Regions from separate parts of the Homo sapiens genome. Here region 1 is linked to region 2. The links come from fine-mapping of genetic effects on gene expression. A gene starts in region 2. The other region holds a variant in brackets. All regions are shown on one strand. Distances are between the middles of the regions. Region 1 overlaps GRM1 (glutamate metabotropic receptor 1). Region 2 holds the start of GRM1 (glutamate metabotropic receptor 1).

The links. PIP is the estimated chance that this variant, and not a neighbour inherited with it, causes the effect.
Region 1: its variant is the best candidate, but not a certain one, in a credible set for the expression of GRM1 in left ventricle (GTEx, PIP 0.86).

Annotation. Positions count from the first base shown.
Region 1 is chr6:146,203,268-146,208,654 of GRCh38, forward strand. All of the region lies in intron 2 of GRM1 (glutamate metabotropic receptor 1), which reads left to right. Among named protein-coding and RNA genes, the nearest start is that of GRM1, 180 kb to the left of the region's middle. The variant G/A (reference allele first, on the strand shown) is at 2,295.
Region 2 is chr6:146,026,405-146,031,791 of GRCh38, forward strand. It overlaps GRM1 (glutamate metabotropic receptor 1), which reads left to right and starts at 2,658. Exons shown (of 8, transcript NM_001278064.2): 1 at 2,658-3,813. The coding sequence starts at 3,114. RefSeq lists enhancers at 2,476-2,976, 2,977-3,477.

The DNA.
Region 1 (5,387 bases), 180 kb after region 2:
CAGAGGAGTTTATTTCCTGGTCATGTAACAGTCTGATGAAGGGGTTACTGCCATTTGTGCCGCTATTCCCTCTGTCGGGGGTTCATCTTCTTTCATGTTGTTGCTCTGTCCTCCACCAGGGCATTAGAGTCCTCTGTTTCCAGCTAGCAGACATAGAAAAGTGAATGTAGGAGTGCATGCAAAGTGAGGCACATCTCTTTCTCTTAGATTCATCAACTAGAACTTAGCCTAATTGTGCACCTAGGCTCAAGGGGCTGTGGGAGATGTAGACTCTGACTAGATAGTCCTATTTCAGGGACAGTTTTATGCTCAAAGGAGGAGAACTCATTTCTTTTGTGAACCTCCAGCTTTCTCTACCATGGCCAGACTTGTGACTCAGTGAACTTGATGGCACCCAAGATAATCAGACTATATGCCTAAAGCACAGTATGTATAGAGGAATCTTACTTAACCATTGTTTAACAAGGGTTGTAAAACTTTTGGAAACTCTGAAACTTGAACTCGTATCCTACATTTGAATTCCACGGCAAAGAGAAAACCAGAAAATATTATGAAAAACTTTATCTCTCATGTAAATTCCCACAATGTTGGATGTTGGAGCATTAATTGCTGTCACCCTTTGCTAATTCCCTTATCCTTTGGGTATGTGGATAGCAAAAATCTTTTCAAATAAAAAGAAGTATTTTATTTCAATCACTATACCAACGTTTTATAAGAATAAATTCACTTGTTCTTCAGCACATGTAGATTGTGTTATTTTTGAATATAATGTTCTTATTGAGTGTTAATTATATGCACCTACACTTTCAAAGAAGTGATAACTAGATACTGTCAAACTGATAACAGCCAGTCTTCTCTCTAGCTTTATGCATGTGTTAATTTATAAGGTGGATTAGCAGGAACTTCACAAGCCCTTTATTTTTGGTCTGCTTGGAGATGAGAGCGATGAAAGAAAAAAATGCAGATATATTGCTTCTGTTTAAAAATTCGTAATAAGACAATGGGCAGAAGTGCTCTAGCACAGAAGTTTCTATTGATGAAAGCATTTGCCAATTTACCCTAATTTCCTGAACGTTTACGGTTAGCAAAGAAAGTACACATAAGCACAGAAAAATCTATTTTTATTTTTCTATGATTTTCTTAATTTACACCCTTTAATTTGGAAAAGACCCATTTAACTGTGCTTAAAATTATTTGCAGGGCACGGTCTATTGTTAACATTTTCATGTAACTTCATAGGGTCCAATGAAATGGGTGCAGAAGGTGTAGCCCAGGTATCACATTTATAGATGGGCCTGGTATTAGAATATGCCATGTCCATGTTCAGAACTTCATTTTTAAATAAATTTCTTGAAATTTATGATGATTCAGAAGTAATTCAGATTTAATTTAAATGTTTCTTATAAGGTTTGCTAAATAAAATACTGCCAAAAAGGTTGGAAGAGTATATTGAACTTTAAAGCAATTTAGAAGCCTTAGTTGTGTGCTTTTGGGATGCTCAGGTTCATGGGCAAACACAGCAGGGGCACTTTTGTGCACGCAGAGTTCTGAAACAGCGCTAAGGGAACAGACCCAATGTGTAAGGCAGGGGCCTTATTTTCAGCCACTCTATGGCTGCCCTTGAAATTCATGTAATGCTTTAAGATATATCCTCACATTCTATGAGGACATGGGCTTTGTTTCATAGGGTCCTTGAATTTCAGTAGAGTTGGCCCCTTTACAGTGTTATGTAATATTTTGTTATTGAATGAATATATGAAAATGCATGCATCAAAAATGTCCAATGACTTCATTTATATTCTGCATTTAATCTATTTCTAATTAGTGAACTTTTAAGTAATGTGAAAAGTGGCTTCAGGATAGTTTGGGGTTCAATTGAGGACATGTTTTAGAGTAAAAAATATCTATAATACTCAAAGATTTTGTTAGAAAATGACAAAGGAGGTCATTGAGTTATGGTCCCTTTTTCCACAAAGCTAATTTCTTTCTTTATTGTGAACTACTGTTTAATATTCTTTCATAGCATACAAAATTTATTTTAAAAGATAATGTTCATTTTATGGAAAACTTTATGGTGTTCTGGCTTTTTCTATTTATTTTCCTCATTCCTTTTTGAGGACTGATTTAACTCAGCATGTATGTTTCAGATGAGTGAATATTTAGGAAGCAAATTCTTAATAGCTAGATGATCTGACAGTGGATATTCGAAAGGGTAAAGCAACGGAAATAACATGGTGAACATTTCAGGATCCTGGTGAATTATTATGCGGAAAGTTTTTGAAAATTTATTTTTC[G/A]TTAAGTTAGTCTGAACCTGAATTGTTATCATAACAATGCAGCATATTCTTCTGTCTAAGGAGGTAAGTGAAATCAGATTTAAAAACTCAATAACTATACTTAGAAATGGCACATTAAAACTTAATTTTATTTTCTCCCTTTTAAGCAAGACTCAGCCCTTTGTCTACTTTCAATCCTGTTCTGGGGCACACACTTTTTCTGAAGGCAAGCTGAGAGCACTTTGCATTGTAAGCAAACTGAGGTTCAGCCTTACCCTGCCCCTGTCCTGATTAATATTTGGACATTTACCTGGTTCTCCTTTTCCCACATGCTCCAAGCAAAAACTTGCAGGCATGTGCAGAGTCACAGGCAGGCTCTCCCAGGGAGGCGGGAGCAGAGGTCCACTAGCAGGCAGCATCATCATGTTCTCTTGATCTCTATAGGTTCTGGGACCTTTAAACCTAGGTGGAAGGTGATTAAAGAAAGGAAGAGATTGATGTATGTCGTAGCAGAGAAAGAGAAGTGGGGACATCTGCCAAGCATGGTCAGCATGGTTTCCTATATCCTAGGAAAGCTAATCAGGACCGTTTCTGTAGGACCTGTATCATTTGAAATCTTTTCTGCTTTTGAGTTTAAGGCAGAAAGATGTAGTCAGGAGAAACAGATAGAGAAGCAGGAGGTAAGCCCAATGGCTTGTGGGGGAAGAGAATGTTTACAGTGTACACTTGATAGGGAAGGCAATTTTATTCCTGTCTTCCCAGATCATCCCCACTTCTAGTTCCTTACTTTGTTGCTAGATGCTCCCATGAGAGGAAGAAGGAGTTGCTATCCCAGGCCTGGGATCTTGATACTGTCAGTTGCCAGGGTTATCATTCCTTAATATTACAAAGTTATGCCTATTTATTATTATCTTCCTGGTTTTATGCAGCAGAGTGGGCAAGTGGTCTTAGGGTCTCAGGGAGCTTGATTAAGAGGCAGCCTCATTCTTGTATTCTCTGTCTCTCTGTCTCTTTCTCCCCCTAAAATCTACTTGATCTTAGATACAGACTTGGATGTTTGTTAGTTTCTTCAAATAGTGTTTTTTTTTTTCTTTTTAAGTTTTATTTTAGGTTTGATGGTACATATGAAGGTTTGTTACATAAACACATGTCATGGGGGTTTGTTGTACAGATTATCTCATCACCCAGGTATTAACCCCAGTACCCAATCTTTTGGGTACTTTTGGGTACCCAGTTATCTTTTCTGCTCCTCTCTCTTCTCTCACCCTCTCCACTAGAGTAGACCCCAGAGTCTGTTGTTTCTTTCTTTGTGTTCATTAGTTCTTATCATTTAGCTCCCACTTATAAATAAGAACATGTGGTATTTGGTTTTCTGTTCCTGCATTAATTTGCTAAGGAAAATAGCCTCCAGCCCCATCCATGTTCCCACAAAAGACATGATCTCATTCTTTCTAATGACTGCATAGTATTCCATGGAGTATAGGTACCACATTTTCTTTATCTAATCTGTCATTGATGGGCATTTAGGTTGATTCCATGTCTTTGCTATTGTGAATAGTGCTGCAATAAACATTCATGTGCATGTGTCTTTATGGCAGAATGATTTACTATTTATATTCCTGTGGGTATATACCCAGTAATGGGGTTGCTGGGTCAAATGGTAGTATACTTTAAGCTCTTTGAGGAATTCACCATACTGCTTTCTACAATGGTTGAATTAATTTACACTCCCACCAACAGTGTATAAGTGTTTGTAATAACAACTCATTGTGGTTTTGATTTGCACTTCTTTAATGGTCAGTAATATAGAGCTTTTATTTTCTTGCTTGTTGGCCACATGTATGTCTTCTTTTGAGAAGTGTCTGTTCATGTCCTTTGCCCATTTTTTAACGGGGTTGTTTGTTTTTTCTCTTGTAAATTTGTTTAAGTTTCTTATAGATGCTGGATATTGGACCATTGTCAGATGAATAGTTTGGAAATATTTTCTCCATCAGAGCTCTGTATTAGCTACTTGCATAGTTACTAGTTAAGTAGTACTTCAATTCCTATTTTTCTGCAGAGAGGAGTAATGGGCAGGAAAAGCTAGAGACACCCCCAGATATTTGGCCATAATACTATCACACACCACCCAAACCCCATCTTTTAAAATAGGCAACTAAAAGTATAGAAAGACAATTTGTTTTGATGAGAGGGGGAAGAAGATATTTGGGGTCAAACAGACATGTGTTTGAATCCTTGCCTAAACTTAGTGACTAGTTATTTATTACATTTTAAGTTGTTGGTCTGAGCCTATTTTATTATCCCTAAAATGGGGTTTGTAATATTTTCCCTGAAGAGTTGTTGTAAAAGTCGCACCTAGTACATTCCATTCTTTGATATATAATAGACATGAATTTATAGGCATTTTTATCTAATCAGCTTCTGAGATTTTTCCCTCCTTTCCCCTCTTGCAAAAGACCTCTTTCTCTCTTTCATACACAACAACCCTCAGGCTGCCTGTCATCTTTCTCTGACTTCTCTTTTTTTCTTAAAGGTTGCCCTGATTCACTGTCATCAGACTTCATTTGTATATACCTACAGGCAGTTGAGGGCTGAGTAAAATAGAAGGACATAAGTCTTGTGGGCTTACAGCGACTTAGATAATACAGGCATATGACATAGGTCACCTCTCTGTCAGGCGACTTCATGATCCTTGTTGGTAACCCAAGAAGGCTAATGGCATAACATGCTTTCAAACTGATAATTCTTACATATCTTTTCAACTTTTATTTAGAGTGAACAGGTGATGTTTCTATTGAAAAAAATGTATATTTTTTTCTGTGTATAATGTAGTTTGTTGTATGTAATGAAGCAGTAAAAATTGTTTTAGAATTATCTTTCATTTCACAATTTTAAGTCATTCTTAAACAAGTAACATTGGTTATTCATACAGACAAAGTGTTAAATATGTTCCCCTTTCCACCTCTTTATCTGGCTATTAAAAATATCATCTAAATAGATACTTAACCTTATTTCTGGACTCTGCCAATCTTTCTTCATTCTACTCATGTCGGGGTCTTGATCATTTATTGTCATTATGCATTTTGAAGTTGTTAGGAATTTTACCTTTGAATT
Region 2 (5,387 bases):
ACTCTGTGCATACCTGTGGCTTGCTGTTCTTCGAACAGACATATTCCTAGGGTAGAAGCAGAGAGCCATTTAGTCCCATATGTGATGATCAGAACTTACCTCTTCCCATTTTCCTTATGTAAACATGTGGCTACTTCCCGAATTGAGATCATTTAGTCTAAAAAATGTGAACGTTGTTTAGTGCATTATTTGTGGAAAAAGAAAAAAATATATTCTCTTTGGGCTGTCTAAAAAAAAAAAATCCAGAAAACTCTGACACTTAGGGAAAAAAAGATCAGAACCAGAATGAGAAAGACCTTTTGTTATTGACTAGAGGTATTGTTTTCCTTCCTAAGTTTCATGGAACACACTGAAGAGTATTTGAAACTGCCTCATGTGGTTTGTCCCCTCCAGTCTGACATGGCACCATTCCATAATATAATAATGACCTGAGCAAGGCGATTATAAGCTGACCCATAAGGGACCAACGTAAGCTGATCTCTCTGCTCTGCAGATGACACAAATAGAAAGCTTTGAACAAGAGTAGAAAGACACACTGTCACTTGTCTTTTCCCCTGAAAAAGCCGGGCCACATTCTGCTCAGCCAACATGTTCCCAGAGGAATGTGATTTAACTTCCGCTTTTCACACAGTCAGAAGCAACACCATAGACCTGTAGGGAAGGTGATGGCCGCCTGGGAGGAATTTGGATAAGTATTTGTCACTCCAGTATTTTCATGTGACCTGACTCTCATTCTCAATTTAGTTACATCTTGACCTGAAAATGCAGCCACAATATGTCTCTCTTCATTTGGCATACCTTAATTCATAATGGGCATGCCTGTCCTTTCCCTTCTCCCACCCTATGCAGCCTCTTCCTGATTTCCCTTGCAATCTACTAATAGAGCCTTTCTTTAGATGTCTGTACATGTGTTTACACTCTGTTTCCCTCTGTAGGGACTTTACTCGCAGAAAGAGAAAATATATTTGAGTCCCTGAGATATATATACAAAGATATCTACCCCAAAGCAGCCTAGGCAGTTCTCCACTTCTTTGGCCAGATTGTCTGACTATTCACGTATCTGGCAGCTTCTATACGACCCCTCATATAGTAAAGGAATTAATATTCCCCACTTCCTCCTAGTTTGTCTCCCCTCCTCCCTCTATCAAACGACTGATTTTTATACATGAGATAATAGACAAGCCTTGGGTGACCTGTTTTTTTTTTTCTTCCCTCCCCCTCTTTTTCCCTTGCGGTAAAATAGTGCTGAAGAAAGAGGGCACTAGTGTACAGCCCAGATCGCATCCTTGCACCGTCTGGATTAGAGCTGAGGCGTCTGCAAGCCGAGCGTGGCCACGGTCCTCTGGCCCCGGGACCATAGCGCTGTCTACCCCGACTCAGGTACTCAGGTATGTCTCAAGTCCATGTCCTCCAAACAGACTCAGGTGAGCGGACACTTCCTCCGGTGAAACCCACCCACAACGGCAGACAAAGTCCCAGTCTATCAGATTTTCCTCCGGGTCCCAGGCGCATTCTCGCTTATGTATTTCTTTTCGTCCTGTATCCTCAGGAAGAGTCGGGACCAATGGGTGCCTGGGTTTTCTTTCTCCTTTTTCTGCCTCACCTCCTGTGCTCTCCTCGCCCGCTCCCATAGCCCCCTTTTCGTCGACTCTCACCTTGAGAAAAGGAGCAGGGGAGGAACGGGAGAGGGAGCCAACTTCAGCCCCGCAGGCGGCTGAGATTTGGCGCCTCTGTCCCCAAGCGGGTGGGTTTGGATATATACCTGCACAAGCGGTGCAAGGTGATGAGAATGAGGGCGGAGGGGCGGTGGGGACTCGAGTGGAAGGGAGTGTGTGTGTGTGTGTGTGTGTGTGTGTGTGTGTGTGTGTGTGTGTATGGGTAAAGAACTCAGAGGAGGGAGGTTGAAAGAGCAAAGCGGGTCAGGGAATTGCAACTCACTGGTCAAAGCGTCCCTTGCAGGCCCTGCCAGGGAATGTCTGGCTGGACCGAGCACTGTCCAGGGTCCTGAAGGCGGCAGGGCTCAGGCTGCCGCGGCGAGAGCAACCCGGAAGCTCCCCTCCGTTCCCTTTCTAGCAACTATGCAAACCCCAAAGCAAGCGCAGGACCCCCCCTAACCCGTCCACCCACCGCGGGAAACAAGTTACCTTATCTGCACCCCTTCTTCTTGAACATACACAGCAAGCCTGACTTCTTACGGGGGAAACATACCAAACTCCTCCATACGGAGACTTTACCAGGCGTTGCCTTAGTAACTAATGTGGATTTTCTTCAAGCTGGCAAATTTATATTTACAGCTGATTTTATGTCAGGGCTTCTTCAACCCCTCAAAATTAAAGTAAAAGGTGCATCCTTTGTTTACGTTTATTTTAAAGTCGCGCTTCCACCTTTACAATGAGTTTCCAAATTTTCTTCTGAAAAAAAGTTGATCTTTTCCAATCCGGAAAGTTCTCTTGGGTTGAAGGACCTAGCTCCTCCCCTCCTCTCTGCTCACCTTCCCCACCGCCCTCCAAGTTAGAAAGCATGATAGGTTTTAGGGGACCAGGAAACGACTTAAGGTTGGAGGAGCGGGCGAGTTGGCGGGGCTCTGCGCCGCCTGGACCCGTGAGGACAGAGGGGGCAGGACACCCCGCCTTCCTCAGTGACCACAGCTGCGCTCCAAGCTGTTCCTGCAGCCGATATCAGGATGTGCCGAAATGAAACGGACAAGGCAACTGTTAACATTATAGACCCCAGAGTTTTAACACAGGTCCTCTGATGACAAGGTTGTGATTTTTCTCTGTCTTTTGTCAGCAGCATCTAGCTCACCGCTGCCAACACGACTTCCACTGTACTCTTGATCAATTTACCTTGATGCACTACCGGTGAAGAACGGGGACTCGAATTCCCTTACAAACGCCTCCAGCTTGTAGAGGCGGTCGTGGAGGACCCAGAGGAGGAGACGAAGGGGAAGGAGGCGGTGGTGGAGGAGGCAAAGGCCTTGGACGACCATTGTTGGCGAGGGGCACCACTCCGGGAGAGGCGGCGCTGGGCGTCTTGGGGGTGCGCGCCGGGAGCCTGCAGCGGGACCAGCGTGGGAACGCGGCTGGCAGGCTGTGGACCTCGTCCTCACCACCATGGTCGGGCTCCTTTTGTTTTTTTTCCCAGCGATCTTTTTGGAGGTGTCCCTTCTCCCCAGAAGCCCCGGCAGGAAAGTGTTGCTGGCAGGAGCGTCGTCTCAGCGCTCGGTGGCCAGAATGGACGGAGATGTCATCATTGGAGCCCTCTTCTCAGTCCATCACCAGCCTCCGGCCGAGAAAGTGCCCGAGAGGAAGTGTGGGGAGATCAGGGAGCAGTATGGCATCCAGAGGGTGGAGGCCATGTTCCACACGTTGGATAAGATCAACGCGGACCCGGTCCTCCTGCCCAACATCACCCTGGGCAGTGAGATCCGGGACTCCTGCTGGCACTCTTCCGTGGCTCTGGAACAGAGCATTGAGTTCATTAGGGACTCTCTGATTTCCATTCGAGATGAGAAGGATGGGATCAACCGGTGTCTGCCTGACGGCCAGTCCCTCCCCCCAGGCAGGACTAAGAAGCCCATTGCGGGAGTGATCGGTCCCGGCTCCAGCTCTGTAGCCATTCAAGTGCAGAACCTGCTCCAGCTCTTCGACATCCCCCAGATCGCTTATTCAGCCACAAGCATCGACCTGAGTGACAAAACTTTGTACAAATACTTCCTGAGGGTTGTCCCTTCTGACACTTTGCAGGCAAGGGCCATGCTTGACATAGTCAAACGTTACAATTGGACCTATGTCTCTGCAGTCCACACGGAAGGTAGGCATTATATTTGGGAAAGAAGGGTACTGAGAAAGTCAGGGCAATGCATGATGTGCTCCTGGGATCATAGTATTGTTCCTGTTTATTTCTAGCACTGTGGGGAACGGAGTTTACCCTTCTCAGTACTGCCCACCCAGGCATTGCCTTTTATCCTCATTTCCTTACAATTATAGTGTAGGAAAATTGTACCCCATAGAATATCTGAGGATAATAGGAGCTGAAAGGGTATCAAACTTTCCATGCAAAGTGTCCAGCAGTAGATTTGACTTGAATACTTGTTTGCCCTCATATTTTGAGTTTGCGTTTGGAAGGCTTATTTGTCCAAGGTGTTATATTGCCCTTCAGTGACTGGCTATGACTTTCCAGGTGTAATGAGTTAATTCAGTGTGAGTGATTGGCAAAAAGAAGTTACTATTCCACAAATAGGACTTCAAAGCTTTATCTTTCTTTAACAGTTGAAGATTTTCTTTGTCCTCTTGTACCCCTTCTTACATATCCAAAACTTTCCTGTGAATGTAGGATTAATGCAGTCATCTCCCTCAGTATATCAGAAACTTATATTTTTACTTCTGGAGTACCTTAGTTACAAAGAAAAAGTAAGTAATTTAAATAATGTATTTTCTTCTTACTTTATAGGCTAAAATCATCCAGATTCCCTCACTCCCCCAAGAATTATCTTGTTTTATGAGAAATAACACTGGTGACCACTTGGATTTGAGTTTTGGTTTCTAGTCTTTTTTCTTCTAACACAATGAACTTACATATTAGAATTAAAGTTAGATCAGTTATAAAATACTAATGAATGGATAGCAGATATTAGGTTTATAATGTCTTTCTAAAATGCAATAGATTAACCTAAGGTTAAAAGCTTTGATTTTTCCAGAGACTTATGGATGTGAATTTTCAAAAATTTTTTATATAAAGATTTTCTAGACTCTCTTCACCTTAGGTTATATACATTTTTTAATAAAAGGGGATTTCTGAGCTCAGCTACTCTTAAGTCCCCCAGTAGGTTTATGAAAAAGCTGAAGCCCTGGTTATAAATTAACATCTAGGACAATTCACATGTATAAGCTGGCAGAAGAAGACAATCTTGCTGGTATTTCTGTATTCATATTTCTTCAACTCAAATGACTTTCAAGAAGCCATAGGCATGGCTCCATGTTTTTTTAATATTTCCATAATATTCAGTTACTGGCGTGAGGTCTGATTATAGAAATTGACAGCATCCATAGTGAAGTGATTATATGGTTATCATTATTGAAAACATATACTTTATAAAGGGAACAGAATTTTCAGAACAAACATAAATGATATAGGATTACACATTATAATTTCAGATTTTGCTTTTGGAAAAAACTATCTGCTGTGATATTATAACTTTATAATAACTGACTTATGCTTCTGAAGCTTGATTTTTAATCATGAACTGCGTATCTCTTTTTGAACAAAAATTCATTACTTTTTTAAGACTCAAAGTATTAATTCCTTATATTTTAATATTTAACTTTACTACATGTTAATGTTTAGCATAGTTTCTTTAGTGCTTGCTTAAATGAAACATCCTGAAA